2 separate regions of the Homo sapiens genome follow, and region 1 is linked to region 2. The links come from fine-mapping of genetic effects on gene expression. A gene starts in region 2. The other region holds a variant in brackets. All regions are shown on one strand. Distances are from middle to middle.

Region 1 (15,494 bases), 34 kb before region 2:
TCATTTAAAAAAACAGAAAATGTAAAACAAATATCAAAAATATAACAATCAAACAATATTCTCTTGCTATGAAGAGCTTTATACAAATGACAAAGGGTATGCTGTGATTTTGCAATTTCTGTTGGGAGAGAGCGGGAGGTTCCAGCTTTTTGAGCCTTTTCGTTAAGCTATGCTACCCTCACAAGTCAAGTGCTGCCTCCTGTAGTTCCTTAAAGGTGTTTTTTGTTTGTTTGTTTTTGTTTGTTGGTTGGTTTGTTTTTTCTCTGAGATGGAGTCACACTCTGTCGCCCAAGCTGGAGTGCAGTGGCACAACCTCTGCCTCCCGGGTTCAAGCAATTCTCCTGCTTCAGCCTACCAAGTAGCTGGGACTACAGGCACACGCCAACATGCCTGGCTAATTTTTGTATTTTTCAATAGAGGCAGGGTTTCATCATATTGGTCAGGCTGGTCTGGAACTTCTGCCCTTAGGTTATCCACACACCTCAGCCTCCCAAAGTTCTGGGATTACAGGCGTGAGCCACCGTGTCTGGCCAAAGGGTCTTTATTTTTAATTTCGAGAAAGAACATTCTGCCAAAATCAAAAGTGTTAGGAATTGTTGAAACTGCAGAACACACAACATAAATGCAGGCACTCTGGTTGTAATATTTCAAAATAACTATCTTGGCAAATTCAATTTTAATTTTTTCCATTTGCCTTTTTTATGATTTTGCACAGAGCAGCATTGATCATAATTCTGGAGGGTTACTTGAGAATTGTTTTTATTCCTTTGGTGTGTCTGCCACACTGGATTTTTCACCCATCTTTTAATGTGATTGGTGAAATGCAAACAAAGCCAGTAGCTGTATTTGGCCTCTGAAATCTTGTGTCTCAATGGGCAGTTGCTGTATCAATTACAGGATGAAAAATGATGGACTATAATCCTTTCCCCCAAAGAATCTGCAGATCAGAGAACCATCTATGCTTTGGAGCATATGACAAAAAAAATTTAAAGTACTATCCTTTCAAACAAGAGAGTTTTACGATGTGGGAAATGTGATTTAAAACAGTTGGTTGTTACACAGCCTTTAGGGCAAGCATGCTGTCCACTGTACATTTTGTAACTGGATTACAACTTATGCATTACAACTCAACTATGCTAGAAAATATGTTATTGTTCTCTATATGTTTTCAACTTGTTTTAAAGTCTCCAAATGAACTGAAGGTGGAGGAAGAATTGTACACTCCAACTCTTCAAGTTAAAATTGCTTTGGAGTAAATGCATGCTCTTTTGGTGAGTACTTCAGTTCTTCAAGGTACTCCCCACTCACTCCTTCCTCTTTCTTCCCCTTGAATGCTATAGAGGCACTGACAAGAAAAGGGGGTGCTCCATAGCACAATGGCATGGAGGAGGACCTGCGGTCTAAGCCATATGGCTTCTGCTCACCTGGGGGAAAGGGATAGATCAGTCCACCTGGTCTCTAGAAGTGAACCTCCTCCTTCCCTTATCCGTTGCTGACCAATCTCAGTCTGTGCCTTCAGTACCGGCAAATGACTCGGTGATTACATTCTGAAAGATAGCCCTGTCATTTTGCTGTTCGGCTCCTGCTCAAGCTACTGACCCTGTGAAACTCAGCTACAGCTCCCACCTAAACCCCAGCTTTGGGCTGCCTATTCCCAGCCTCTTGTAATGGGAGTCTTCCGACTTCCGAGCCATGGGGGACCTTGGACTTCCACACCATGGCAATCTTTAGACAGGCCTGCCGATTCTTAATTCGCGTCAACTTTTCTGCTTGCCGCAGCCATGAAGATGCTTCTGGATCCCTTTAAAAGCATGTGAAGCCTGCTTCTGGCTATCAGTCTAGACACAGCGTGCAGCATATGAGTGGGGCAGGGAGAAAATGCAACCACAACACAAACTCTTGTAGCATTTCCTAAAACTTGGAAGTGTGTGGTTTTATCAGGGCATCCATCCTCTCTCCTCTCCCCTGTATCCCTGGACTAAGGCAGCATCCTGATATTATTTTATACTTTCAGGAAGAGCTCTCTGCTTCCCCTTCTGTCTAAAGGGACTTCTCTTACATCATCTCTTTCTCCTTTCCTACTTCAGCCCAACAGCCTGAAAGTCGATGGGAGAAATGCTGTGGGGCTGAAGCTGGGAGCAGTGGCTCACACCTGTAATCCCAGCACTTTGGGAGGCCAAGGCAGGTGGATCACCTGAGGACAGGAGTTTGAGACCAGCCTGGCCAACATGGTGAAACCCATCTCTACTAAAAATACAAAAAAAGATTAGCCAGGCATGATGGCATCTGCCTATAATCTCAGCCACTCGGGAGGCTGAGGCATAAGGAATCTCTTGAACCCAGGAGGCAGAGGCTGCAATGAGCTGAGATTGTACCACTGCACTTCGGCCTGGGTGACAGAGTAAGACTCTGTCTCAAAAATAAAAAAAGAAAAAAAGAAAAAGAAATGCTGTAGGGTATAAACCCAAACCACTTAGAATAGAAACATGTATCAGGAAGTTTTTTTTTTTAAGTTATAGAAGATCCCTGCCATATAATTCTGACAAAGTTTTCTATATACTTTCAGGTAACAAACAGCCAAGTCTCAAAGGGCTAGCAACCACTACAGCATTCATCCTTGCTAATACTCATACAAACATTCAGATTCTTCTGGCAAAGGGCAGGCGAGAACCAGTTTTCACAGCGCCTCACAATATACTGAATATATATATATATATATATATATATATATATATATATATATACACACACACACACACACACACACATAATTTTTGCACATAAAAATAATCCAGGCTATATGATTATAGGCACATAAAATATTATTTGCACATAAAAATAGTCTATATTATTATAGTCCAATCCAAAGATTTTAGAGTAATAAGTGCAAAAGAAACATTCTTTGTCAAAATCGTCTGAATTCCAAAAGCTGAATTTAACCAATATAACAATTTCTTGTGCCCTTTTTGTAAACCCACTGATGCTTTTATCTTTATCTGTATGATATATTTTGGTCTTGTCACTGCTTAACCAATTAAAGACTAGTAGGATGGTAATTAAGTGTTATTGGGCAACTGGCAGATAATCATATTAATAAAGCAGTGCAAAGATGCACTTTAAGATTCCTTAGAACTCATGCCTGTAATCCCGGCACTTTGGGAGGCCGAGGCCAGCAGATCACGAGGTCAGGAGATCAAGACCACCCTGGCCAATATGGTGAAACCCTGTCTCTACTAAAAAAACCAAAAAATTAGCCCAGAGTGGTGGCACATGCCTGTATTCCCAGCTACTCAGGAGGCTGAGATAGGGGAATTGCTTGAACCCAGGAGGTGGTGATTGCAGTGAGCCGAGATTGTGCCATTGCTCTCCAGCCTGGTGACAAAACAAGACTTGGTCTCAAAAAAACAAAACAAAACAAAACAAAACAGAACGGAAAAAACAGAAACCTTAGATCTTACCTCCTTCGTTGTAATAATTGTTATACATCCTGATTCTGCAGTCATGTGTTTGAATCCAGATCCTGTATCTGAATCCTACGTAAGTGGGTGTTTGTTTCTTTGCTAATGCTTTCATGCTAATTATTGAGTGCTTTAGCATAATTAATAGCCAATAGTATTGCCCTCTCTGACTCATGTGGGTCTTTCAGAGTCACTGATCTTAACGCAATGTTCTTATACATCCTGCTGCCCCTCCTGGCCCTCTGGCTCACACCTGGAGTGTCTGCCTGCACCTTGTAAGGGACAAGCCCAGGTGGGACCTGTTGCTGGGGTTGTCCTGACCATCACCCAGGTCTGCACATTGGCTGACCTTTGGAACAGAATATTTAGCTACCTGAGGATAAGGCTGGGTCTTTATTGTTCTTCATGTTTCCTTCCTTCTAAATACACAAGAAAAAGAGTTAACATTTATTGAGAACTTATTGTGTGCCAAATACTTTACAGTAATTATGGCATTTCATCCTCACAACAAGTCCTTGAGGTATGTTCTACTAATATCCCTATTTTATAGCCAAAAACAGTGAGGCTCAGAGAAGTTAAGTAACCCATCTGAAATCACACAGTCAGCAAATAATAAATCTGTGATTTGAACCCATCTGACTCCAGGGCTCTTAGCTATTAGAATTGGAGCACAGAAAAGTTAAATAGTTTGTCTACAATTATGAAACTAATAAGTGGCTGGGCTGGGATTCAAACCCAGGTCTTTTCCACCTCCAAACCTTTGTTTCTAAACCTACAGGACAGGGAAAAGGAATGAAATAGGAATGCTCACATTAGGTCTATGAGAGCAGCATAAATTCAGATGATCATAGCAGGAACTAGCCTAGAAACTGGATGGACGGTTTATGAGAGCTGACCAAGCAGAGGTTCATTTCAGCTGACTGGATGGTGGAATTTACCAATCATAGAACAAGGGCTTTGGAGAGCATATGGTGAACCTGACCAATGAGAGCTGCATATTGTGACAGATGGGTGATTAAACCGGCCAGGCAATAACTGAGAAAAGGGGATTATTCAGTGAAACTGACCAGTCACAGAGTCACAGGAAAGCCTGCATCTCTGTGTTGGGAACTTGCTCCTCGGAGAGGTGATCTGACCTAATGGCAAAAGGCCACTCTGAGCTCTGCCTGGCGCCAGGGTTCCAGGAAACAGGTCTGAAGCCATTCCTGTGCCAGCAGCAACTGCCAGCACGCCTTTGCTCATAGATCAGCCATGAGGTCAACGGTTTGAGTGACTCACCTCGTGAAAATGAGGCGGCAGTGTTGGGCCTTACTGTTTCTCTGTAAGCATTTAAATTGATTTTTCTGCCTGGTTAAATTCCCCCGCTTTGTTTTTATACAGAGGCTTAGGATGAAGCTGGATATCAGGTCCAAAGACACTACCAGGTAAAACAGCCCTCCTGCCCCGTGTCCTGCAAGATCCAGGCTCTGTGACCAATGAAACTGACTAATTGAAATCGCGGTCAGGTGTCAGTCATCCCAGGGACAGCCTTGCTGATAGTCACTGCTTGAGACAACCCCACTAGTCAACTGGCAGTCCAGGGAAGCCATCACCAAGGGCCTAGGGACATTTCTAACCCCCTCCTAAATCACCATATTGAGTGAGGATCCCACCCACTGCCACAAATGTCAAGAAATCACATGTCTTCAGGCCCCCACAAACCATGCGATGCCTCCCTCTTGGAAAGAAACTTCAGGAGCTCCAGGAGTTTGATATGGGGAGAATCTCCAGAGAAGGATAGGAGGCCCCAGCTGCTACAACCCTTAGAATTTACCTTGTGTAAAGTTTTTTCCTACTGCTGTCACCGGGTGTCACTCCCTCCACCCCTCATGGTGCTGCTCCCCAATTCAAACAGCCCTCCTGGCACAGGCAAACCATCTTGGTTTGGGTTGCCCAGAAGGCAGAACCTGAGACAAGGACTTGTTGAATGTTATCTACTTGGAAGGTGATCTGAGGACACAGATAGATAGGAGTAGCAAGAGTGAGATAGGGAAGTAGGAAAATCTAAAATGAGGGTGTTTCCTTGGACTCATGTCTATAGGTGTAGGGGCTCAATTCTTCTGGAATCTCTGAAAAGTTTATAGAACGTCTCCTGCAGTGTGCACCTGACAGGTGATACCCGGAGTCTTTATCCACCATCTCCCCTTACTGGTTGAAAATTGTTTCTAGGGAAGTTAACTGCCTTGTGCCTCTAGGCAGCATTTGCAGGTTGTAAGCAAGCTTCTGTGTCGTGAAAGAAACCTCAGATCAGAATCTGGAAAGACTCTGGCTCCTACTTGCGGTAGGACATTGAGACTGAGTCCAAGCTTGCACAGAACTGTCCACTACTGCTGTGGCTGAAATCAGGGGCAGGCCAGGGGTTTGTGGTGCAACACCAGAGGCTACACACACTCAACGGAACCTTCCTAAACAATTTTCTGAACTCTGAGAGCAAACAATAGGGAAATAAACTCAAAGGGAGCAAGAAACGGGATCCAGTGTATCTCAACCAAACTGGGATATATGGTATTCCACACTTCTACCCAAAAGGCATTGAAGAAATACCTACTGACTTTTGAATCCTATAAACTTGGGTTCAAATCCTGGCTCTGCCACTTGGTAGGTTAGTAGCCTTAGACATATCACCTGACTGCCCTAAGCCTCCATTTCCTAAAGTGTGTAATAGGGATTAAAATACTTAACCTTACAAAATAATTGTCTGCAAAGCCCTTGGGATATAGTAGGTCCTTTCTCAGCAAATGACCACTCTTACTAAAGGGCAGGCACATTTTCACACCCTCAAAGACTCATGCCAGAAGCCAGCTCTGAGCTCCAGGCTGCCCCTAAGGGAAGGTGGCCATTTCGCCTTCTCTAGTTAAGAGCTGCTTGGCATCTCAGTACTTTTAAGACCAAGACCAGATAGCGATATGGCCCCCACTGTCCTTGCCCTCAGAACTCTAACAGAACCATTTCTTGTCCTAGAGATTTGGCTCAAACTATTTAGCAGGTACAGGAGAATTAGGTCTGAGTGAGATGCAAAAATATCCAGGCATTAAAAAATGGAATGATGTGGAAAAGATCAGTCTTTGGAGAACTATCTTGACCTTTCCCTCAACAACTGAAGAACAAAATGAAACTTTCCTCTATAAAGGTTTGTTTCATGGTCTGGGTTTCCATACTGCTGGGTGAAGCAAGCAGGACATGGTAAAAAGCAAACTCAGATTCCAGAGGAGAGTGTCTCCATGTGTCACAGCCAAACCATCTATGTTCTTGAATTGTACTAAAAGATGACAGTATCTATAAAAGATATTTTAAAAACTTATCACCCTTATTTCAATTGTTTCCATATTTCCATTCTTGCTACTCTCCAAATTTCTCCTTTAAATGACCTGAAATTCGACTTATTTAATCTGGGTCAAAGGATCATGTGCATTAGTCCAAAACCCTCCTTCCCCTGACCTCCTCTACTTTGGGTGTCTGGGGTTGAGCAGGAGCCTCCATATCTGATCCCATCATGCAGACAATAGGTCTGCAGACAAACTTCTCCAGGAGGAGCCAGGAAAAGAGTCCTGCAGTAGGAGGAGAGAGACCGGGGCTCTGCTGTGAACAAGCATGTGACCTTAGGCAGGTGCCTCACCAACCTAGGCTCCAGTTTTCTTTTCTTTAAGGTGAGGGGCTTAGACAGGAGGAGCTCTGAGAGTCTGCGGATGTTATCCTTGCGGGCTTAAACAGAGGTCCCTGGACAGCCAGGATGTTCTGAGCCCCACCATGGCGTCCCTGGCCTGGCTAGGGGCTCCCGCAGGGCAGGATCACGTTGCCCCAGATTCCAGGACTGGCTGCGGCACAGACCCAGGATCAGGTGACAGATCCATCCAGCCTGGACTGGCTCAATCCCTCCACTACAGCCGCAGCCCTGGGGGCTGGAAAACCAGAGCTAATGCAAGCCAGCTGGAGGCCAGGACAAGATTGATGAAGGATAGGGAGAGGATTTGGCCAGGGTTTTTTTCAGTGCGGGAGGGTGGTAGAGAATAATTAGTCCTGCCTGCTTCCCAGAGGCCCTCAAGCTGGGCAAACTTCATTAATTGGGAACCCCCAGTGGGGAATTCCTGCTCATGACCCAGAAAAGGAAGAGCTCTTTAGGAGTTAATTAGTAGTGAAAGTGCCAATCAGGGAAAATGTTTAAACTATTAAATGTCTGAGCACCTGTTTACCTACAAACAACTGATACAGTAATTATCTCACCATCAAAGCAGGTCCTCTATGATAGTGATTACCAACCTCAGGAGAGCCTGAGGATCGCCTAGGAACCTTGTTAAGCATCCATCTCCAATGCAATGATCCTGATTGGTCAGCAGGAGTGAGAAGCATTGCTCTAAACCGTCCACTAGCCCAGGAGTTCTTGCCTCAATCTCAGTGGCTCCATGTATCAATAAGCAAGAAGTACTATTACCACTAGTCTTTCTATAATTCACTCAGCTTTACTATGCCCCAAGAACAATGCTAGGCCTTTAGCATTCATTGTCTTTTAATCCTCATAGCAGCCACGTGTGATAGGTGTTATTACCTCTTGTCTGCAGAAAATGACGTAATTGAGCTCAAAGAGGGGAAGAAACTCACTAGGTAAAATAAAGTTAGTAAGTGGCAGAGATTTTATTTGATCCTAGATATTTTGACTCCAGAGCCCAAATCTTCACTGCAATATTTTTAATGATCCCCAGTGTCTTTCCTGTCCTTTGAGTGATTAAGACAAGACTGCTATGCTTTTGAGGACAGTCATAGTGCTATTCAAGATATCCATAATACAGACGGGAAAACCAAGTCTCCAAAAGGGGACATTAATTGATTCAAAGAGTTCAAGCTTATGGCTCCCATGTTTGGGCCATTTTCTGTTAGACAAAACTATCACGTGGAATTATGAACTAGAAGGAAGAAGAGATGCTGGCCTCCAGTGCCAAATATCAATGTGTTGCACTGCTATTCAAGAAGCAGAGCAATTTAGTTAGGAGCATTGGGCTGTAATCATATCCATTCTACCAACACCAAGTGTGACCTGAGACAAGGCACTCACCTTCTGTGGGTCTCAGTTGCCCCATCTGTCAAATGGAAATGCCACTGTCTAGTCTGCCTTCTGCCTTGTGAGTGGAGAGTCAATGAGAGAAGAGTGCCATCATGGTGGAAGGGATCACTCCAACTGGTGTGTAACAGCTTTGACTTTAGGGGGCCTCTCATGCAACTACATGACAGCTTAGAGCTTGGCAAGACTTCCCTTTGAACCAGGGCCCCAGAGCCAATATTCTCCTTTCTGGATTTCAGGAGGCTAAAGAAAACACTTCCCAATATTCTCCAGAAAGCTGGCAAGATGGTTGACCAGTTGGCCCTCTAGGCCTTCTTCCTGTGACACCTGGATTTGACCTTATTGACCAGACAGGCCTTGTAGCCCTATCCCTCAGACCAAGAGCAGCCTCCTCCAGAGCCACCCTTACCTAAGGGCACCATCCGGATGCCTGCCTAGTTCCCTTCCGGCCCTGATGGAGGCATGAGCCTCCCCCACCGCCTGCTCACTGCTCACTCCTCGGCCGCCAGCCCAGCAGCTGTTGCCTCAGATCAGTGTGGACCATCTAATCCCCTCTCCAGAGCCCTGGCCCCCTCCTCAGGCAGTAAATTAAGGAGGATGTAAGAACAGAGGGCACCAGCGTCAGCAGAGCGGCATCCAAAACATCCTCCCCAACCCGCGCCTGAGTCACAGGGCCCTGAA[T/A]TGGCCCCTCTCCTCCTGAAGCAGGGGAGGAGGAGGCCAGGACAACCAGGCCCGCGGGAAGAGGGAAGCAAGAACCCAGAGGAGGGAAAGGGCAGGGGGCTTGTAGAGAGGAACCAGGCCAAGCTCCTACGGGTGTTCCAGCTCAATCACTTTCACTGTGACTCTAGGAGACCCCAAATCTCTACTCCAGAGTGACACAAGACAGGGGACCCGGATGTCAGTTTCTTATTACGCCCTGACTTCCAATCCCGTCTGTTTCACATGCCGCACCCACCCCAGACCGTTGTGTCTCTATTCCTGAAATGGGCAGAGAATAGTCAACTGACAAGAGTCAGGAACACCTCATCCCGGGGCACATCCCAAATCCCTGTGTTGAGGGGCTGGGGCAGTAGAGGCATCTTTGGCAGCTAGCCTCACCTCCTGCCCCTGAGAGCATGGTCTACAGGACTGGCCTAAAATCCTATGACTTGCTGAATTAAAAACACCATCTAACACTCCCTATACAGACGGTATGCTGGGGCCCACACCAAGAGCTTTCCGATCTGACTCAGAACTATCAACAAACTGAAAATGCAGGAAGAGGTAGAAAGATGGCCAAATAACACTGGCATAGCATCCACAGGTATGACCCAGAAAGAAGGGCAATGTGGGGATGCTGCCCTGTTTTTCAGAGACGTCACCTGGAGAAGAGGCAGATGAATAATGTAGTGACAGAGATCGGAGTAGAATAATAAATCCCAGGGGCTTGAGATTTTAAGTCAGCAAAATCAATGCACCTTTCCAACTTCACCAAGATGTGGTAGGATAAGACTCGCCCCTCAGAAACAAAATAGAAATTTTCATGGGCACAAAGAAAATGAATTTGTTCAGGGGAAGGGAAACAATCCTATATGTCAAAAGCACCAAGGATTGTGTTTCAGGTTTGCTTTAAATGCCATTTATATGCTGATGACTGTCAAATGGCTATCCTCAGGCCAGATCTCTCAATCAACTCCAAACTCGTATCTATCAGCCTATGTGGTATCAATCACTTGGATATCCAATAGACCTCTCAAATTTAACCTATCCAAAACTAAATTCCTGATCACCCACAAACCCACTATATATACAGCCTTTCCCATCTCAGCTTATGGGTAACTCCCTCATTCATGTGGCTCAGGCAAAAACTTTGGCACTATGTCTTAATCTTTTCTTTGTCTCCCCTCTCTACTCCTAACACATCTACTCTGTCATGAGATTCCATTAGCTCTGCTTTCAAATACTATATCGAAAAGCTGACTACTTCCTACTCCTACCCCTGTTACCATGGTCAACCAAGCAATGGTTGTCTTGTAGCTGGGTTAGTGCAGTACAACCCCTCTCTACAAGCCCTCTTGCCTCTGCCCTTGCCCCAACCTCACACCCCCACCCCATCTATTCTCAGCACAGCAGCTAGAAGAATCCTTTTAAAAATCTAAGCTAGGGTTCGTAACTCTTTGCTCAAAGCCTCCAAAGCCCCTATTTCACTCAACCTAAAAGCCAAGGTCCTGGCAATGACTGCAAGGCTCTGCATGGTCTGGCTCTACTAACACTCGGACCTCATCTCCTCTACTCTCCTCCTTGCTCTGCTCCAGGTGCACCAACCTCCTCGCTGTGTCTCAAGCGTAACAGACATGATAGTGCCTTAGGACCTCTGTTGTAACTTTTCTCTCTGCCAGGAACGTTCTTCTACCAGATATCTACCTTACCAAATCCTCACTGTCTTCAAGTCTGCTCAAATCTCAGCAGGCCTTCCCTGACCACACTTTCACTGCAGTTGAACCTTCCCACCTTCTGGATCCTGAGCTCCTTTACCCTGGTTTGCTTTTTCTTTTCTTTTTAAATTGCATAACACCAACACTCTGCAAGTATATAATTCACTTTTGTATTAACTTTATGCTTCTTGACCACTCTCCCACCTAAAACATAAGCCTCATGGGATCTGTTCACTGCTGTGTCCTCAGGGCCAAGAACAGAACTTGGCCCATTCATGAACGAATGGAATCAATCAATCAAAGTTGTAAAGTGGAGAGGAATGTCCTCTAAAGCTCCCCTGGCCAGATCAAAGAAGTGGAGTTTGAGATATTGAAACATGTCCTGGGTCTTGCCCAGAAATGTATTTTAAGAAGTGATGGGGTCTTCATCCATCTGGATGTCCTGCTACAAGGGACTTGTGGCTGAATATCAAACATATCTCAGACCTTGAGGCACCTTTAATATAACCATACTTGTTGCTGATCAAATGGAAACTAGCAAAACAGCAGAAGCAACTTATTACCAATATTCATCTGGTTCACTCCATGTCTGCTGTGCTGTTCATACCTTCATAACTGAGTAAACTGCCCTTGTTCTTGACTTAGCCCTGTGCCTCAACTTTAGATGTCTGTCCTCACACTCGCAGCAGTCCAGACCTGCTTTATGAGAATGTCATTTATTGCCTTCTTTGGCCACTCAACTCAAATGGCTTATTTTTTTTTTTAATCAACTTTTGCTCCATTTCCTTTTTTACCACCTGGGTAAAAGAAGGCACTTAGATTAGTTTTCTATTGCTTTGTAACACACTACCACAAATTTGGTGGCCTAAAATAATACCTACAAAACATCAATTGTAATTAAGGAAATGCAAATCAAAACCATGATGTGATTCTACTTTATACCCACTGGCATAGTTCTAATAAAAAGGACAGATATAGCAAGTGTTGGTGTGCATGTATTCCCACTGTACACTCCTGGTGGGAGCTTAAACCAGTGAAGTCACTTTGGAAAACAGTCTGACCCTTCCTCAAAAAGTTGGACATAGAGTTACCATATGACCCAGCAATTCCACTCCTGGGTATATACCCAAGGGAATTGAAGATGTGTGACTACTCAAAAACTTCTCACAAATATTCATAGCAGCTTTATGCATAATAGCCAAAAAGCAGAAACAGCCCAAACCAAATGTCCGTTAACTGATGAATGGAGAAATATAATGTAGTATATCCATACAATGGAATGTTATTCAATCATAAAAAGAAATGAAGCACTGATCTATGCTACAACTTGGATGAACCTTGAAAACGTGCTAAGCAAAAGAATTCAGACACAAAAAGCCACATATTGTACAATGCCATTTATGTGAAATATCCAGAATAGGCAAATCCATAGAGACAGAAAGTAGATTAGTGATTTCTGGGGCTGGGGGAATGTAGAGTGATTACTTAATAAGTATGGGCTTTGTTTGGGGGCAGAGGCAATGAAAATGTTCTGGAATTATATAGAAATGATGGTTGTACAATTTTATGGCTATATTTAAAAAACTACTGAATTGTCCACTTAAAAAATGCCCATTTATTAGCTCACATTTCTGTAGGTCAGGAGTCTGGGAGGGCTTGGCTGAATTCTAATTTCAAGATCTCACAAGACTGAAATCAAGGTGTTGGGGGTGGGCATGAGACATATTGCAAGAATCTGCTTCCAAACTCGTTCACTTTGTGGGCAGATTACTGTCCTTGTGGTCATAGGGCTGAGGTCCCTATTCCTCACTGGCTGGCTGTCTCTCAGCACTTTAAGACTACTGGCATTCCTTCTTATATGGCCCTCTCTTTTTCAAACCAGCAGCAGCACATCAAGTCCTTCTTATGCTCCAAATCTCTCTGACTTCGCCTTCTGCCACCAGCCTAAGAGAGTTCTTTGCTGTTGGTGACTCAAGAGATTAGATTAGACTCCCTCAGATAATCTCCCCTCTCTAAGGTCAACTGTACCATACAACATAGCATAGCACAGTCAGGGGAGTATCATATTTACGGGTTCCAGTGAGTGTGGAGTCTTGGGAGCCATTCCTAGAAATTCTGCCATTACAGTATCTGAGAATTAGTTTAGGTAGACTTGCTGACAATTTGATCTCCCGGAAGGAGCAAGCATTCCCAAGCACCTGTTCCATCCACATGCTGGAGGTTCCATGAGTTACTCGTTTGTCTCCATGGTCCCCAGGCCAGTGCTAGTACATAATGCGTGCTTCAGTGAGTGCTCATTGAATGTTTGCTAAACGGTTCCTACTCTGTAAGGGGTCATTCATTGTTTACCGGGAAGGCAGACCCATACAAAACCCAGGAAGCTCCGGAGGCTGAGAGCCGTAAGAGGGAAGGTAAGCGCACGTGGTGTGAACACTTGGGAGGATGTGACATGGGGAATGGCTTCTTCTGACCAGTTAGATGAAGACAGGTTAGATGAAGACAGGTTCCTTCTGACCAGTTATATAAAGAAAGTAGCCCAGTCATTTCTGAGCTTGTGCTCACCATAGGGGTTATCCATAGGTGTTATTCATAGGGGTTATCCATAGGTGCTCACCATAGGGGTTATCCACATGAGATATATGCCAAGCATGTCCCCATTTTTGGAAGGCAAATCTCAAAAAGTGGGGGGAGGAGATAAATAGGCTCCTATGAGAAAATGTGCTATTCAAGGATAAAATAAGTTTAAATTTTAAATGCAAATGATTCCAAGAAAGAAGAAAAATGCGGGAAAAGCCAGGGGTAGGGGGGATAGTAGCCCGAGAGAACAATACAGAATTATATAAACTCTGCAGAGTGTCCTCTGATGCTCGCATTCATTCTTTCAGCAAATATCTACTGAGTGCTAACCATCTACTGAGGGCACTGTGTTAGGCACAAGAGCACATGGAGAAGCCAGGTGGGAAATGTGGTAGGCAGCCTCTACGATGGTCCCCAGTGATCCTCGCCTCCCATCACACTGTAATCACTTCCCTCTGATTATGAGTATCAGCAGAAGTAGTGGGTTGTCACTTCCACAATTAGGTTATAAATAGACGCGGCTCTGTTTAGGGTGCACGCTCTCAGTTCACTCACTCTAAGAGAAGCCAGTTGCCATGTTGGGAGTCGCCCCATGGAGAAGCCCACATGGCAAGGAGCATCAGCTCCAGCCAAAAGCCACGTGAATGAGCTAGACATGGATCCTCCCCTGGTGAAGCCTTGAGATGACTGCAACCCCAGCCAACACCTTCACTGCAGCCATGTGAGGGACCTGAGCCAGACTGCAGCTAAATTGATCCTGGATTCCTGACCCATAGAAACTGTACAACTATAAATGTGTTGTTTTAAGCTGCTAAATGTAAGTAGCAATAGGTAACTAACATAGGAAAGATTATAAAAGAGATTATAATACTCTCTAATAGTTACAATAAAGAATATATAGAGAATATACCAAAATCAGAGACAGGGCAAACACCTGAAGCTGAACCAAAGAGATGGCTTCAGAAAAGGGAGCAGGAAGGGAGAGGACCCCAATGGAGTGAGACTTAGGAAATTACTAATGGCAGCAAAAAAGGATTTCTTGTTTTGTTCAGGGTAAGAAAAGGAACAAAGAAGGCTTCTGTTGGGGCTGAGGGTGGTAGAGAAGCAGAACTCTCCAGCTTCATCTGCAGCTATTGTCTTCATATTGAGGTCCATGAGCCTCAAGCTGTGGCATTCCTTTCTCAAATGTGGCCACGAATGGAATTAGGTTTGGTTGGAGTAGACTGAAGAAGGAGACGTGGGGAGAGATTGTCCTAGAGCTCAGAGCTCTGCCAAGTACATTTTTCTCTTTAGGCCCGAGAAATCCCACTTTGAGTCCTGGGAGCACGTGAGGTGAAATGGGAGTTGCTGGTGACCTTTGAGATCTGGGGGATGGGAGGTGGCAGACATTGCCTTCATTTCCAGAAAGAATAAGGTGGATCCCAAGACACACAGATCAGGGTGCTGATGTTGATCTGGGGAGAGGGTCTAGAACAGATTCCAAAGGGATGATGTGTGAGCTCCAGGACCCAGCCCAGAGTTCTCTAAACAACTTAGGCCTACGCTTACCAGTTTTCTTGGCTTTTAAACAGCAAAGGATGAACAATCATTATCAAGATAAAGGTAAGGCTGTGAAAATGGCATGTCCTGATTTCATCTGGGCAATTGATACAGGCTTCATAAGTGGAAGAAAAATACAATCAGGATTGTTTGTAACCATTTGAATAGTTATGGCCAGAGATGACTAAAGGAACATTATCAAGGTATTCCCAGGAGACCCTCAGTCCCTCCTGGATACTACTACTAACAGTTAACATGTATTGTGAATTTCCACGGTACTGATAACTGTTCTAAGCACTTTCCATGGATCTTCTCATTTGAGTCTCAAAATCCTATGAGATATAATCAGCTCCATTTGACAGATCAGGAACATTAGGTGCAGGAAGTTTAAGTAACTTGACAAGGTTACACATT
Region 2 (15,494 bases):
TCCAGAAGCCAGGCATCAGTGGGTTCTTAAGCCTGGCCTCAGCTTCCCCTACCTGGTGGGCAGTCTCAGCTCCTGCTATTTTCACTCATCTGGCTTCCTAGTGTCTGGGAAAGAACCCGGAGTGAGAGGCATTGTGAGGGCTGCATGGAATGTGAGGTGCACATGGCATGTGGGGCCTCGTGGGGGAAAGAGCTGGGCGGGCTGCAGGGAGGGTCCCCCCATAACACCAAGCTCACATGGGTCACATCCCATGCCCTTTAGCCTCTTCCCTGGGTAGCAGCCCACCCTCATCTCACATCCTGAATTGGGCTAAAGCTTAGTTCTAGATGAAGTTATAATTAAATTTAAAAATCACATCTAGAGAATTCCCTCTTAAATTTAAGTACTATGTCAGTTTTGGAGGGAGTTTTTATAAACCTATTGAAGAGGGGAATAAACAGCTCTAGCCTATTATGCCTAGTTCTTCAAGAATCTCTTGGTTTGTAAGATATTCTTTCATTAGAAGTAACAAATTGGCCAGGTGCGGGTGGCTCATGCCTGTAATCCCAGCACTTTGGGAGGCTGAGGCAGGTAGATCACCTGAGGTCAGGAATTCGAGAACAGCCTGGCCAACATGGTGAAACCCCATCTCTACTAAAAACACACAAAAAATAGCCAGACATGGTGGCTCGCGCCTGTTGTCCCAGCTACTCAGGAGGCTGAGGCACGAGAATCGCTTGAACCCCGGCAGCAAAGGTTGCAGTGAGCTGAGATCGCGCCACTGCACTCCAGCCTGGGCGACAGAGCGAGATTCTGTTTCAATTTTTTAAAAAAGAAGAAGTAACAGATTGCCCATCAAACCCCATGCCCAAACTCTATCTCGTGCCACCCCCACACCCCCCAGCCCCTACAGCTCCAGGAGCCATGCCTGTCTGTACCCACAGAATCCTCTGCTCCTAGCAGAAGCGATTGTCCCATAGAAGGTGCTCAATAATTATTTTGTTCTCTCTGCCGGGAGCATTCTTCCCCAGATGCCACATGGCTAACTCCCAAGCCTCTTTTAACTCTTTGCTCAAATGTTACCTTGCCAACCTGACCACTCTGTTTAACACTACAGCCGACCCCAACCTGGCACCTCAATCCTGCTCATCTTGTTCTGCTTGTAATATTTTTCTGCGTGTATCGCCTTCTAACATCTATATAATTTATTTATTATTATGTGTATTGCTTATTGTCTGCCCTGCCCTGCCCGCATGTCAGTTCCACAGGAACAAGGAACATGGTCTGTTTCATTCTCCATCACATTCCCAGCACCTGAATAAATGTTTGTTGTATAAGTGAATGAATCATAGACTGGACAACTGAGAGTGGGAATATCCCCACCACCCCAATAGTGCCCTGCCCCCACCCCCTGCACACTGGGTGGGAAGGGCACATGCTGTTGGTTGTCTTCCTGTTCCCTCCCTCCACAGTGTGGACTCCTGTTCTTCAACTCCCAGCTCAGCTGCCAGACTCCTAAGCCCTGCTTGTCTGTGGGAGGCTGGAGAGTACCCCCAAACGGGGAAATGTGGCCTTCTGTGAGGAATCTCTGGGACCCTGTCCCTAATCTGGGACCATGTCTATATCCTGGCAATATCACAGTCCCTCCTGACCAACCCAGACTGGGCCCAGAGAAGGATCTATACCCATGTGGTGGGTGGATTTTGGCTTTCCCAGGGAGCAAGTTTGTCAGGGGACAGAGGGAGGCACTCAGGTTGGACCCAGGAACAGGAAGGGAAAGGCTGGGGACAGAGAGGGGACCTGGAGCTGGCCCTGCCCCACCAGGCCCACTCATGCTTTTACCTTCTGGCCCTTTGGCGCCCCCCACCTCCCGGCCAGATACGCAGCCTGTGTCAGCCCCAGTGCAGAGCCACAGGCCCAGCCTGGGCAGGGGCAGGGTGCGTGAAGACTGGGGCAGGTGCAGGCTGGATTGGGTTTCCAGAGGCTATATATATAAAGGCTGCCGGGAGCCCCAGGGCCGCTCCCTGAGGGCACAACACTGTGGGGGCCCAGCCAGGCCCACATTCCTTTCCAGAGGCCAGCTCTCCATTTATAGCCCCTGGGCAGAGCAGCCAAGGGAGCTGAGAGGGGAGGACTGGAAAGGGCAGAGGGAGAAGGGGCAGCCCAGGCAGCACTCCCTCCCCACTCCCCACCAAATGAGCCCCTCATCATGAAGACAGCAGAAGCCAGGCCCAGGGCGAGGTGTGCACATGCCCCCAAGCACAGAGCCTACCATTCTGGTCAGACCTGCGTTGAGGGGTGAGGGGGCTGCCAGGGGATCCCCTCAAAGTCCCTCAGCCCATTGCTAGTGGCCCCTCACAGAACAAGTCCAGCACCTGTGGACAAAGGGCACCCTTGACTAGACTCTGCAGTATAAGAGTTTGAATGTTTTCAGCTTCCAAACTTGGTATCCTTTTTCCCTCCGCCCCCAACCCAGCACTGGGACTAAAAGGACAACATGTCCCAGGTTGGACATACTTCTCCCTGCTCTGTGGGCAGCAGGGAAGAGATGATGGTGTTGACAAACCTCTCTCCAAAGAGGAGACGCAACCAGAAGGGTGATTCCAGGCAGGTGTGGATGCCAGGCATGGAGAGGTCTGAAATGGTCACCGAGTTCAGTGAGTTCCAATCTTTTTTTGAGCAACGGAAGCCTGGTAGCAAACAAAAATCCCACTTGAAAGCCTAATATAAAAATGGCATTTTACCACTAGAATGTCTGTGTGCTTTAAAACAGCGCTTCCTAATTATGGAAGAAGATGTAGCTGCAAATCAAGCTTAAAACTGTCAAAGCAGTTTAGATTTATAAGCCATAAGTGATAAAATATTAAATGTGTTTGGTAAGTTCAAACATATAACATTTACTTATTTATTGTAAAGGCAACTTGATGACAGCCCTGAGGAAGTTTTTAGAAACACAAAGCACAAAAAGCAAAGTTGTATTCACTTGTCTCAGCATCCAATTTATTTTGTAGTTTCTTGCTTATTCAGATTTGGGGAAAATCTAGATTTGCATAGATAAGTGGTTTGAATAGCTCACCTGGGAATCTCAGAGTACTCTTTAATTAAGTAGACTCATTCATTCATTTGCCCAAGAAATATTTATTGAGTGCCTACTATGCACCTGGCTTTCTGCTGAGCCTTGAGCAAGTAGGAAGAAGTATTTGTTTCTAAATCATCAATACAACAATTACTTACATTCCTCATTGTGAGTATAGTGAAAAAACAATAAGAAGACACATCGAGATGCCAAATCTCTCTATAGTATACCACTACAATATTGCAGCATGCCATGTATAATGCCCAGTTCAAGAGAACATGCCCCAGGCAGATGGGGTCTGAGCCTTTCCTGGGAAGAGCAAGTGTAATAGAACATGGATGTCTAATCATGTATGTGACTTCCCAGTTTTGAAGAAATTCAACCATCTTCATTAATGTCACAGTTCAAGACATTCAAATATATGCATAGAGATGCAAAGGGCGTGAGGCCACTCATTCATTCACTGGACATTTATCAGGTGCCTACTGTGTGACTGCCACTGTGATGGTTTTTGGAAATGTCATTGTGAACAAAACATCTTTGCCTTCATGGGGCTAAGTCAGTCATGAACAAACTAATGAAGAAGATTATAAAGAGTGGCAGTGCCTGGAAGGAAATTAACAGGGTGGTGTGAACCAGAGTATGGGGGGCAGTTATCTTAGAGGGAATGGTCAGTGATGTCCCAAGGAGGCAAGAAGATCTATTATATAAAATGCAGTCAATCTTGGGAAAAGCCCAGGGGATAATGCTATGAGTTTAGAGCAGCAAGGACAAGGCTCCAAGGCAGGATCCTGTTCAGAGTGTTAGAAGACAAGAAAGGAGGTCAGGCTAACTGGAGTAGAGCAATCAAAACGGATGGTGCCTCCAGGTGTAGTAAGAGACACAGGCTGAGGCTAGCTCATGCAGGGCCTGATAGGCCAGGGGATGGAGATGAGATTTTACTCTAAATGCAAGAAGCTGCTGGGGAGTTTGAAGCAGGAGGATGGCATAATCCCATTTACATTGTAAAGGTCTACTCAGGCTGCTATGTAACGAATGGATTATACTGAGGCTACAGAGGAAGTGAGGAGGGCAGCCAGGTTATTGTGGTCATCCAGAGCAGCAGTGTGACAGCTTAGTCCAGGATGGTGACACTAGGGATGGACTGACTTGAGACAGGTCTTAGAGGTAGAATGGACAGCTCTTCCTCATACTCAGACCTCTCCTTGGGAACTCCAGCCTTAAAAATCCCCCTGCCTAATCCACACTTCCATCTGGATATCCGATATGCATTTCAAATTTTGCCCAAACCTGGACACTTAATCTACCACCCACAAACCTAGTCTTCTCAACTCCATTCTTGCAGGAGTCATCCTTAGCTCCTTGCTTATCTCACTTCCCACATGCAATCGTGAGTAAATACTGCTAGCTCCATCTTGAAAACATATATCTAGAATTCAACCACCACTTTTCACCAGCTCCACTCACTGGGATTATTGCAATAGCCTCCTAATTGGTCTCCCTCCTTCTGCCCTTTCCCTCCAGTAACCAGCATGCTCCTGTTAAAATGTAAATCAGATAGTGATATTCTTCTCTTCCGCTCAAGCCCTCCAGTGAGATGGCTCAAGCCATCTCAGAATATAATCCTGTTTCTCTCTCTCTCACCCCATTTCCCACTATCTCTTTTACTCACCCTGCTGCAGACATATGAGCCTCCTTGCCATACTTTGAATCTGCCAAACATGGTCCTGCCTCAGGACTTTTGCACATGCTTATCCCTCTATCTGGCCCTACATATCTCCAGGTATCTGCTTCCAATTCTCTTCATTCAGGTCTCTGCTTAAATGTAGCAGAGAGGCCTTCTCTAATCACTCCATAATCTTCATCACTGTGTCTCCCTGCCTTGCTTTTTCTTCATAAGGCTTCTAACCTCCTGGCATCACATACTTCCTTGCTTATTTGTTCATTGTCTATCACCCTGCTTACATTGACAATGTAAGTGCCATGTAAGCAGAGTCTTGGTTTTGTTCATTGCTCTAGCCCCACACTTGGACTGGTACCTGCCACATAATGGATACCTAACAATATGTGGATTTCCGGGTGACCCCCTGCAGCTTGGGTGGGGTGAGGCCAGGACTTTGCTGCCTCTGCCAGGATTTAGAGTTACTGTCACTGCTGCTCCATGATGTAGACTTTACTGAATGAACAAATACAGGTGGGCCCTATGGAGTAAAGCGAGGTGAGTACTTCATGAAGGGAGACCTTCAGCACCACTACCAGCAGCAGAGAAGTGAAGAAGTTAGGACCCCAACAGAGCCCTCTGAGTTTTGTGGGAAGGGAGGACTTCTTAGGGCCCAGAACGGCCAGCTAGAATGCCTTCCAGAAGTTAGTGGGAAAGGCACAAAGATCACTCCTGCTTAAATTTCTGGTTTCCAGGAGGGGAGATCCAGGCAGGGATGTATGGCCAACGGAGATTCCTAGCCAGAGTGCTGAGAGGACTGTGTGAACTGCAGATTCAGGAAGAGGCTGAGAGACCCCCATGGGGGTGGCCGGTATGCTGAGGCTTGTATGGGAGCCAGATATCCCACATCCCATGGGGTGGTTGCCTCCTCCTGTTTCCAGCCTTTCCAGTGAGGCTGCAGGAAAGAGACACAGCTAAGGCCTGGAGACTCGTGGCACTCCGTCAGGGCATGGTACCACAGATGAGTTGTAAGCCTGCGGGACACAGCATCCAACTCTGAAAGCCCCTTGCTCGAATAACCCTACATCACCGCCTGAGGGCTTCCATATCCTTGGTCTCTTCAGACTGTCATCCCCACCACAATTACTCCAAGAAATTACTGTCATCCCCAAATCTATAACTGGAAACTGAGGCTCAGGAAGGAGACATGACTTCCACAAAATCACACAGTTGGGAAACTCTGGAGTCTGCACTCAACTGGTCTGCAAACCGCACTCTCGGAGACTTCAGGTGAGATGAGGTCAGGTTCTCAGGCCAGGTCCTGAAGTTTGACACCTTGGCGAAATGCACTTTCCTTGACTCAGCACCGCGAGTGAGGCGGAGCCAAGCCCCGAGCAGAAGGGTTTTCTTCCCAGCTGAAGAGGCAGCTCAGCCTAGACCCCAGGCATGGCACTGGACACCCCTGCTGTGGAAACGTGCAGATTTAGATGGAGGGGATTCCTAACCTGGGCAGGATCCGAGTTTGGAGAGATTGGCGCGAAGCTTTAGCAGCAATCTCCGATTCCTGTACAACCATAGCTGGGTTTCTAAGCGTCTAGGGAAGAAGGACTGGGCCCACGACCTGCTGAGCAACTCCCAGGTCGGGGACTGGCGGAATATCAGAGCCTCTACGACCCGTTTGTCTCGGGCTCGCCCACTTCAACTCTCGGGGTCTCTCCGCCTGTTGTTGCACTCGTGCGTTTCTCTGCCCCTGACGCTCTAAGCTTTCTGCTTTCTGCGTGTCTCTCAGCCTCTTTCGGTCCCTCTTTCACGGTCTCACTCCTCAGCTCTGTGCCCCCAATGCCTTGCCTCTCTCCAAATCTCTCACGACCTGATTTCTACAGCCGCTCTACCCATGGGTCCCCCACAAATCAGGGGACAGAGGAGTATTGAAAGTCAGCTCAGAGGTGAGCGCGCGCAGCCAGCGTTTCCCGCGGATACAGCAGTCGGGTGTTGGAGAGGTTTGGAAAGGGCGTGCCGGAGAGCCAAGTGCAGCCGCCTAGGGCTGCCGGTCGCTCCCTCCCTCCCTGCCCGGTAGGGGACCTAGCGCGCACGCCAGTGTGGAGGGGCGGGCTGGCTGGCCAGTCTGCGGGCCCCTGCGGCCACCCCGGGGACCCCCCCAAGCCCCGCCCCGCAGTGTTCCTATTGGCCTCGGACTCCCCCTCCCCCAGCTGCCCGCCTGGGCTCCGGGGCGTTTAGGCTACTACGGATAAATAGCCCAGGGCGCCTGGCGAGAAGCTAGGGGTGAGGAAGCCCTGGGGCGCTGCCGCCGCTTTCCTTAACCACAAATCAGGCCGGACAGGAGAGGGAGGGGTGGGGGACAGTGGGTGGGCATTCAGACTGCCAGCACTTTGCTATCTACAGCCGGGGCTCCCGAGCGGCAGAAAGTTCCGGCCACTCTCTGCCGCTTGGGTTGGGCGAAGCCAGGACCGTGCCGCGCCACCGCCAGGATATGGAGCTACTGTCGCCACCGCTCCGCGACGTAGACCTGACGGCCCCCGACGGCTCTCTCTGCTCCTTTGCCACAACGGACGACTTCTATGACGACCCGTGTTTCGACTCCCCGGACCTGCGCTTCTTCGAAGACCTGGACCCGCGCCTGATGCACGTGGGCGCGCTCCTGAAACCCGAAGAGCACTCGCACTTCCCCGCGGCGGTGCACCCGGCCCCGGGCGCACGTGAGGACGAGCATGTGCGCGCGCCCAGCGGGCACCACCAGGCGGGCCGCTGCCTACTGTGGGCCTGCAAGGCGTGCAAGCGCAAGACCACCAACGCCGACCGCCGCAAGGCCGCCACCATGCGCGAGCGGCGCCGCCTGAGCAAAGTAAATGAGGCCTTTGAGACACTCAAGCGCTGCACGTCGAGCAATCCAAACCAGCGGTTGCCCAAGGTGGAGATCCTGCGCAACGCCATCCGCTATATCGAGGGCCTGCAGGCTCTGCTGCGCGACCAGGACGCCGCGCCCCCTGGCGCCGCAGCCGCCTTCTATGCGCCGGGCCCGCTGCCCCCGGGCCGCGGCGGCGAGCACTACAGCGGCGACTCCGACGCGTCCAGCCCGCGCTCCAACTGCTCCGACGGCATGGTAAGGCCGGGACCCCAGGAAGTGAGGAAGTTAGGGCGGCGCTCGGGATATCAGGGACGCGTTTCCGAGGGCGGGGAGCTGGCCTTGCGGGAGGTTTGGGCCAGGATCCTTCCCGAGAGAGAGGACCCCCTTGTCCTGGGCAGCTGTCACTGGGGTAGCCTGTTTTGGAAGTGTGCGGGCAAGCGTTCGAGCTGCCCCATTGGGGGCGCTATTAGAACACTGCAGCGCGAACGTGAAGATCTTTTTCTCTACTTATCCCTACTTCCAAAATGTAAATTTGCGCCCCTTGGTGACTGTCCGCCCTTGGTTTGGCCCTGCATGTTGCAGACCTCATCTCCTACCCACCCGTAATTACCCCCCCAACCAGGACAGGTCTGGGCCCGGAACTAGAGCCTTAGGCTAGAGTTAGGGAGGGGGCGGCTACAGGAATTGGTGTTCGGGCCTCGAGCCGTCCCGCGGGCCTGACTCAGTCGCCCTTGCTGTTTGCAGATGGACTACAGCGGCCCCCCGAGCGGCGCCCGGCGGCGGAACTGCTACGAAGGCGCCTACTACAACGAGGCGCCCAGCGGTGGGTATTCCGGGCCTCTCCCTGCTCGCTCCTCCTCCTTCATGGAGCTGTCCTGGCCTCTATCTAGGACGCTCCCACCCCCACTCACACACGCCTATGTCCTGGGAAGTGGTGCAGGAGATGAAATACTAAGCAAGTAGCTCCCTGTCTTTTGGATTGTCCCGGACTCTAACTAAAGTCCTCAGTTTCCAATCTGTCTCAAAGTACTGGGCCCGGGGGTGGGAGGCTTGTCGCGGCCCCACCCCTGCTTACTAACCGAGCCCTCCCCGCGCAGAACCCAGGCCCGGGAAGAGTGCGGCGGTGTCGAGCCTAGACTGCCTGTCCAGCATCGTGGAGCGCATCTCCACCGAGAGCCCTGCGGCGCCCGCCCTCCTGCTGGCGGACGTGCCTTCTGAGTCGCCTCCGCGCAGGCAAGAGGCTGCCGCCCCCAGCGAGGGAGAGAGCAGCGGCGACCCCACCCAGTCACCGGACGCCGCCCCGCAGTGCCCTGCGGGTGCGAACCCCAACCCGATATACCAGGTGCTCTGAGGGGATGGTGGCCGCCCACCCGCCCGAGGGATGGTGCCCCTAGGGTCCCTCGCGCCCAAAAGATTGAACTTAAATGCCCCCCTCCCAACAGCGCTTTAAAAGCGACCTCTCTTGAGGTAGGAGAGGCGGGAGAACTGAAGTTTCCGCCCCCGCCCCACAGGGCAAGGACACAGCGCGGTTTTTTCCACGCAGCACCCTTCTCGGAGACCCATTGCGATGGCCGCTCCGTGTTCCTCGGTGGGCCAGAGCTGAACCTTGAGGGGCTAGGTTCAGCTTTCTCGCGCCCTCCCCCATGGGGGTGAGACCCTCGCAGACCTAAGCCCTGCCCCGGGATGCACCGGTTATTTGGGGGGGCGTGAGACCCAGTGCACTCCGGTCCCAAATGTAGCAGGTGTAACCGTAACCCACCCCCAACCCGTTTCCCGGTTCAGGACCACTTTTTGTAATACTTTTGTAATCTATTCCTGTAAATAAGAGTTGCTTTGCCAGAGCAGGAGCCCCTGGGGCTGTATTTATCTCTGAGGCATGGTGTGTGGTGCTACAGGGAATTTGTACGTTTATACCGCAGGCGGGCGAGCCGCGGGCGCTCGCTCAGGTGATCAAAATAAAGGCGCTAATTTATACCGCCGTGGCTCCGGCTTTCCCTGGACATGGGTGTGGGATCCGGAGGAAAATCCGCAAACTGGGCCAGCTGTCCCTCAGCGACGCCTGTAGGCGGCAGGCGGATTGCAAGGAGGAAGCCTGCTGCCTGGGGAAGGAAGGAGGGGTGCAAATTTCTCCAGTACGTGAGGAAGTTCCTCTGACCTTGACTACATTACTACACACGTCCGTGGCTCTTATGGAAGGGTACACAGGTTGATATGAGTATTTTTTAAACCCATGTCTGAGCTCGCCCCCTAGATATTCTGATTTAATGTTTCTGCCCCATATACCCAGGGCCAGGTATTGGTATTTTTTTTCAAAAGCTCCCCAAGTGATTCTGAAGTTCATTCAAGGCTGAGAATCATCCCCTCCATATAAAGTGAGTGAACCCAGGTGTGATAACCAGAAGAACCACGGGAAGGTTGTGGCCCAGGCATCACTTGGGGGCCTCGTTGGGTATAGAGGATGTGATAGGGTGCCCACAGCATTCCGAGGAAGATCTAAATGAGTGTAGACATGTGCTGTAAGCTCTCTGGCACTTACAGCCCATTAGTAATAGGTGTAACTGCAAAGAGATAGCATAGAAGGCCAGACAGGCACAGACACCTCTACCCAGCACCTAGAGCATCCCGACACTATCAGATTCCATAAGACAACAGGAGCCCGGATCCTGTGAGCAGAGCGGCATGTGGGCCAGCATCATCACAGATGGCATAGGTACTCTTCATCAGGCTATAAACTCTCTGAGAGCAGAGGAGGGGGCATTTATTTAGCCTGAGTGTTGGGGAGGGCTTCCCGGAAGAGTTGTCATTTGAGCTCTGTCTTAAGAAACAAGAGTAGACAATGTACTCACAATGCACACACACACACACGCACACACACACACACAGGTACCTGTGCCCTCCCCTGGGTCCAAGGCCCCTGAGGGATGGTCTGGCAAGGGTTCTTCCCCACTCACTTACCACCTCCCCACCCCCAACACACGCGTGCCATGAGGACCTCAGGACCTCCTACATCCCACCCCATATATGTTGTTCCTGAAAACCCTACAGGCCCACTTTCAAGGGTTTTGTTTGCCAAGTAGGGGGCCCTCAGGAATGCAGGCAAGATGTGATGCCAGAAGGAATATCCGAATATCCTCATTACCTGTCTGAGGATCCATTCTCTGCTCTCCCCAACACAGGGTGCCTAGGAAGCTGCCCAGAGCTGTTGTGTTACGAATGATCCTCCACTTGTCTTCTGGCCACTTCCCCACATGTCCCTTGGGATTCTTTATACCCTTGAGACCCCCTGGGGTCCATTCATGAATTCATTGATTCCACAGATGCCAGGTCTTATGCTGGGTGAAAACAGAGACTGTTGGATGCAGTTCCCGCCCTTGGGAAGCACACAAACATTTGACTAGGATGGAACCTTTTAGCAGCTGGTTACATCCTGTTGAATTAAGTACTGTACTGGAGGTGCATGTAGCAGGGGAACGCCATAGAAGCAAAGGGGAAGGTTCCCTAACTATTCTGGGGGAGATATAGACAAACAGGTAAACTTTAATGAGAATCTTGAAGGAGTTGGTCAGGAAAGAGGGGCCAAAGAAAGGGGCTACAAGCTGAGGAAACAGCAGGTGCAAAGATCCAGGGGTGAGAGAAAGAAAACTGCCTTTGTGGAACTGCAGGTGCCCATGGGGAGGGGCCAGAGGAAGATGGAATGGCAGAGGCAGGACCACAATGGACCTCATCTGGACTTTATCTCGAGGGCAGTAGGGAGCCACACAGGAATTTAAACAGGGGAAGGATACAAATAATTCTGTATTTTAGAAAGGCCAGTTTGGGCTAGCAGAATAGGTAGGAGAGAACAAGACTTGAGACAGGGAGATCTTTCAGGAAGCCACTGGGGTTGCTTAGAGGAGGTATGACATATCCTGAATTGGCTTGGGCCAAATAATGTGTCAGTGTTGAGGGTACAGCAGAGAACATTGAAGGCACAGTCTCCACCTTCCTACAGCTTAAAATCCACTGGGGAAGTAACCGTGAGATGAAGAACCAAGTGAATAAATACAATGTTATAAACGATGAGAAACACCGTAAGGAAAGGCAACAGGTGTAAGCAGAGGTGGTAATGCGGAGTGAGAAGGCAAGCAGGTCGACAGAGGAGGCAGAAGTTCTGCACCAAGGGAAGCAATTCTATACATGAAGAGGGTCCCAGTATCCTAGAGGGGGTCTGTGTGTAATTAGAAAAAAGTACCCCTTCTCTCCTGGGGCATTGCCCTGCACCAGGGATCATGACTAGGCAGGCAGAGAGCAGGCTGGACTTCAGCCCCCACTCACCTCCTCAGCTGGGTGCACTTCTGTAGTGACAACCTGCATAACTTCACAGTGCCTTGTGCGTGTAGGCCCTAGAAAGTGTAGAGAAGGGAGGAGCCTTGGATGACTCCAGGCTCTGGTTTGCTTCTGACTTGAGGCCGTGATTTGCTTCTGAGTAAGTGGTGGTGCCATTACACAGATAGGGACCTCAGGAGGAGAAGCAGGTATGGTGACACATCTAGTGTAGAATACTTCGTGACAGAAACCTTATTCAAACTAGCCTAAACCCCACAAGAGGGTGTGTTGGAAGTTCACGGGGCAGCTCATATCTGGAAGTAGAGCTATAAGCACCACGGCATCTATGCACCTTGGGAGCTAGAGCTCCTCTCACACTTCTAGGCTGTCCACTTCATGTCTCTGCTTGGCTTCACTCTCTCCTAGTCCATATTGGTTTTCTCCAGAAACTCATGGGTTACCATGGATCTTACCATTAAACCCAGTTAGAAAATTCCCAGCCTTGGCATGGTGGCTCATGCCTGTAATCCCAGCACTTTGGGAGGCTGAGGCAGGCAGATCACAAGGTCAGGAGTTCGAGACCAGCCTGGCCAACATGATAAAACCCCGTCTCTGCTAAAAATACAAAAACTAGCTGGGTGTGGTGGTGCACGCCTATAATCCCAGCTACTCAGGAGGCTGAGGCAGGAGAATTGCTTGAACCCAGGAGGCAGAGGCTGCAGTGAGCTGAGATCATGCCATTGCACTCCAGCTCTGGGCAGTAGAGCAAGACTCCATCTTTGTCGGGGCAGTGGGGAGAAAATTCCCAGGGAAGAAGTCTAGTTAGATCAGCATAGGTCATGAGCCAGGATCTGAACCCAGGCAGAGGGCTCCAGAGACTGCACTCTTGGCTGCCTTGCTCTGTGTCTTCTGCAGAGGATGTCAGAAGAGAGGAAGTGAGAAAAGTCAAGAGGGAAGGGAACAGCTGGAGACTGGATCACACCATCGAGGATAGGGTTTGAGGTCCCCTCCTAGCCTGTCCCTTACCTCAGTCCCCTCAAGGGGGGACAACTGGCTGAGCCTGACTTCACTTGCAGTGTAGATGGAACATCCTTTGCTCATGGGGCCATTTTACCTGCATTGGATCTGAGGAAGCACCAGGGCCATGCTCTCCACAGAGACATATGTATATGTCTTTACACATATGTGCTCATACAAAAGCACATGTGTACCCAGAGCACACCATCAGAGGCTGATAGACTGTGAAGACAATAAAGTTTAAGCTTCAGTTCCCCTCTCTCGTATGAGCCCCTTCTAAGGTCCTGGGGGAAACCCTAGAAATATGTCTATATGGTCTAGCTACTTTTTTAATTTGCCAAAGTAAATCACTTTTAACAATTGGTTATGACCATTGTCTCTTTCTGTTCTGACCCTTGTATTGGGTAGCACTCATGGGGATGTTTGGATCAGTCCTATCTAAAGGTATAAATTTCATTTGGGTTTAGTGGAATATATTTTAAATAAATGAAATATAAAACATAAGCAATAATGATGAACAATGATATAAATTTAAATGATTCTGACATTGAGAAGATAATTAGAACCACAAAATTTATCTAGATCATGCCAAAAAGTGGTTTATTAAAAGAAGAAGAAAATTTTCTAATAGATTTATGGAAAAGACTCTTGCATGGTTTAATAATCCCACCAGTGAATAATGGCAAATTACATGAACACATTGGGAAAAGATTTAAATTTTTTGCTGATCTGTTACAAACTACTGGCATCCACAAAGATAGCATAAAATTCATAATATGCCACTATAACAAGACCTCAACATCATCAACACAATTATTAAAGAAACTTGTCAATTAAAAAATATTTAAAATTAGTCACCACACAAGAAAACTCAAAATGCCTTGAGTTTTTACAGCCCACAGATGAAAGAAACTTGATTGAGGTTTCCTCAAATTTGACATCAATTCTAAAAATGTACATGACATTTCCAATAGACTTGTGAGCCTGAAATTTCCTTAAATTATCAATGGTACAAAACAAGTTTTGATCAACCATGTTGAAGGAAAGACTGAATAATCTCTCTATTCTCTGTATAGAAAATGATATTATAAAACCATTGTCACATGAAGAAGCAATCAAAGAATGTGCAGCCGGATGCGGGTGGAAAGAGGTAGGCAAGACTGAAAAAGACAAGAAAAAGGAGCAAGAGGTGGAAGGTAGATAGAATGAGGAGACGAGGAGGAAGATAAAGGCAAAGATGATGATGTGATAATGATGAAAAAACAAGTTGGTCCTACCTTCGTTTTTTTTTTTCTCTCATAAGGCATTTGAAACACTCGCACTGCACACAAGTCACTCCTATTTAAAAACATTCGATGAGAGGCTGTGCAATATTTGTTTTTATATTGCACAGGGTCATTTTTGTGTAGTTGGTAACTTATTTTTTTCAGAGAACACGTGACAGTGGGTTTTAATTCATGTAGAACTTTCCCAGTAGCAGGGGGAAGTGAGTCCTATGGTATGCCAATGGCTACATAATTCCCTGGGATCTAGGCCTGGCTGTGTCATTGACCAGCTCTAAGATCTTGGGAATGGGACTTAACCCACCTGGACTTTGGCATTTACTCTGTGGAATAAATTAGTAAATTTAAAAAGTATGTCTCAGTTTTGAAATTATTTCATAATTTGCTTAAAGCATTTCAAAGAAAGAAGAGATTATGAAGCAGATCTCTTACAGATAAGGAAACCGGGACCACAACAAACTGAGAAGCTTATTCTCAGCACAGGCAACTCAATTATAGACTCCTGGTTAACTGGTCCTTCTTTCTTTTACTTTTCCCAATTTTTAAATTAAGATATAACTCACAACCATAAAATTCACCTTTTTAAAATGCATAGTTCAGTGGTTTGTACTATATGCACAAGGCTATGCAACCATCACGACTGTCTAATCTCAAAACATGTTCATCACCCCCAAAAGAAACCCATAGGCATTAGCTGTCACTCTTCACTATCCCCTTCCTCCTGCTTGCCCCTGGCAACCACTAACCTACTTTCTGACTCTATGGATTTGCGTATTTGGGAAATTTCATATGAAAGGAATCATGTATAAAATTCATAATATGCCACTGTAACTAGACCTCAACAATTAACACCAACATCATGTTTTCAAGCTTCATCTATCTTTTTTTTTTTTTTTTTTGAGACAGTCTCCCTCTGTCACCCAGGCTGGAGTACAGTGGCGTGATCTCAGCTCACTGCAACCTTTACCTCCTGGGTTCAAGCAATTCTTCTGCCTCAGCCTCCCAAGTAACTGGGATTACAGGCACCCACCACCACGCTCGCCTAATTTTTGTATTTTTAGTAGAGATGGGGTTTCACTATGTTGGCCAGGCTGGTCTTGAACTCCTGACCTCAGGTGATCCCCCCACCTCGGCCTCCGAAAGTGCTGGGATTACAGGTGTGAGCCACCGCACCCAGCCAGTTCATCTATCTTACAGCGTGTAGCATACTTCATTCCTTTTTATGCTGAATAATAGTGTATTATACGGATATATCACACTTTTTTAATTCATTCATCTGTTGGTCACGTGGGTTATTTCTACTTCTTA

Which allele goes with the higher level. Positions count from the first base shown, and alleles are read on the strand shown. Sizes are in standard deviations (SD) of each study's normalised expression.
With allele A in place of T in region 1, the expression in skeletal muscle of the gene that starts at base 6,995 in region 2 is lower (small effect, 0.14 SD a copy in GTEx).

The links. PIP is the estimated chance that this variant, and not a neighbour inherited with it, causes the effect.
Region 1: its variant is fine-mapped to the expression of MYOD1 in skeletal muscle (GTEx, PIP 0.98).

The regions. Positions count from the first base shown.
Region 1 is chr11:17,678,989-17,694,482 of GRCh38, forward strand. No RefSeq gene overlaps it. Among named protein-coding and RNA genes, the nearest start is that of LINC02729, 10 kb to the right of the region's middle. The variant T/A (reference allele first, on the strand shown) is at 9,232.
Region 2 is chr11:17,712,577-17,728,070 of GRCh38, forward strand. MYOD1 (myogenic differentiation 1) reads left to right here and starts at 6,995. Exons shown (of 3, transcript NM_002478.5): 1 at 6,995-7,836; 2 at 8,326-8,404; 3 at 8,679-9,560. The coding sequence starts at 7,207. The coding sequence ends at 8,932. RefSeq lists enhancers at 2,076-2,576, 7,944-8,455, 8,456-8,967.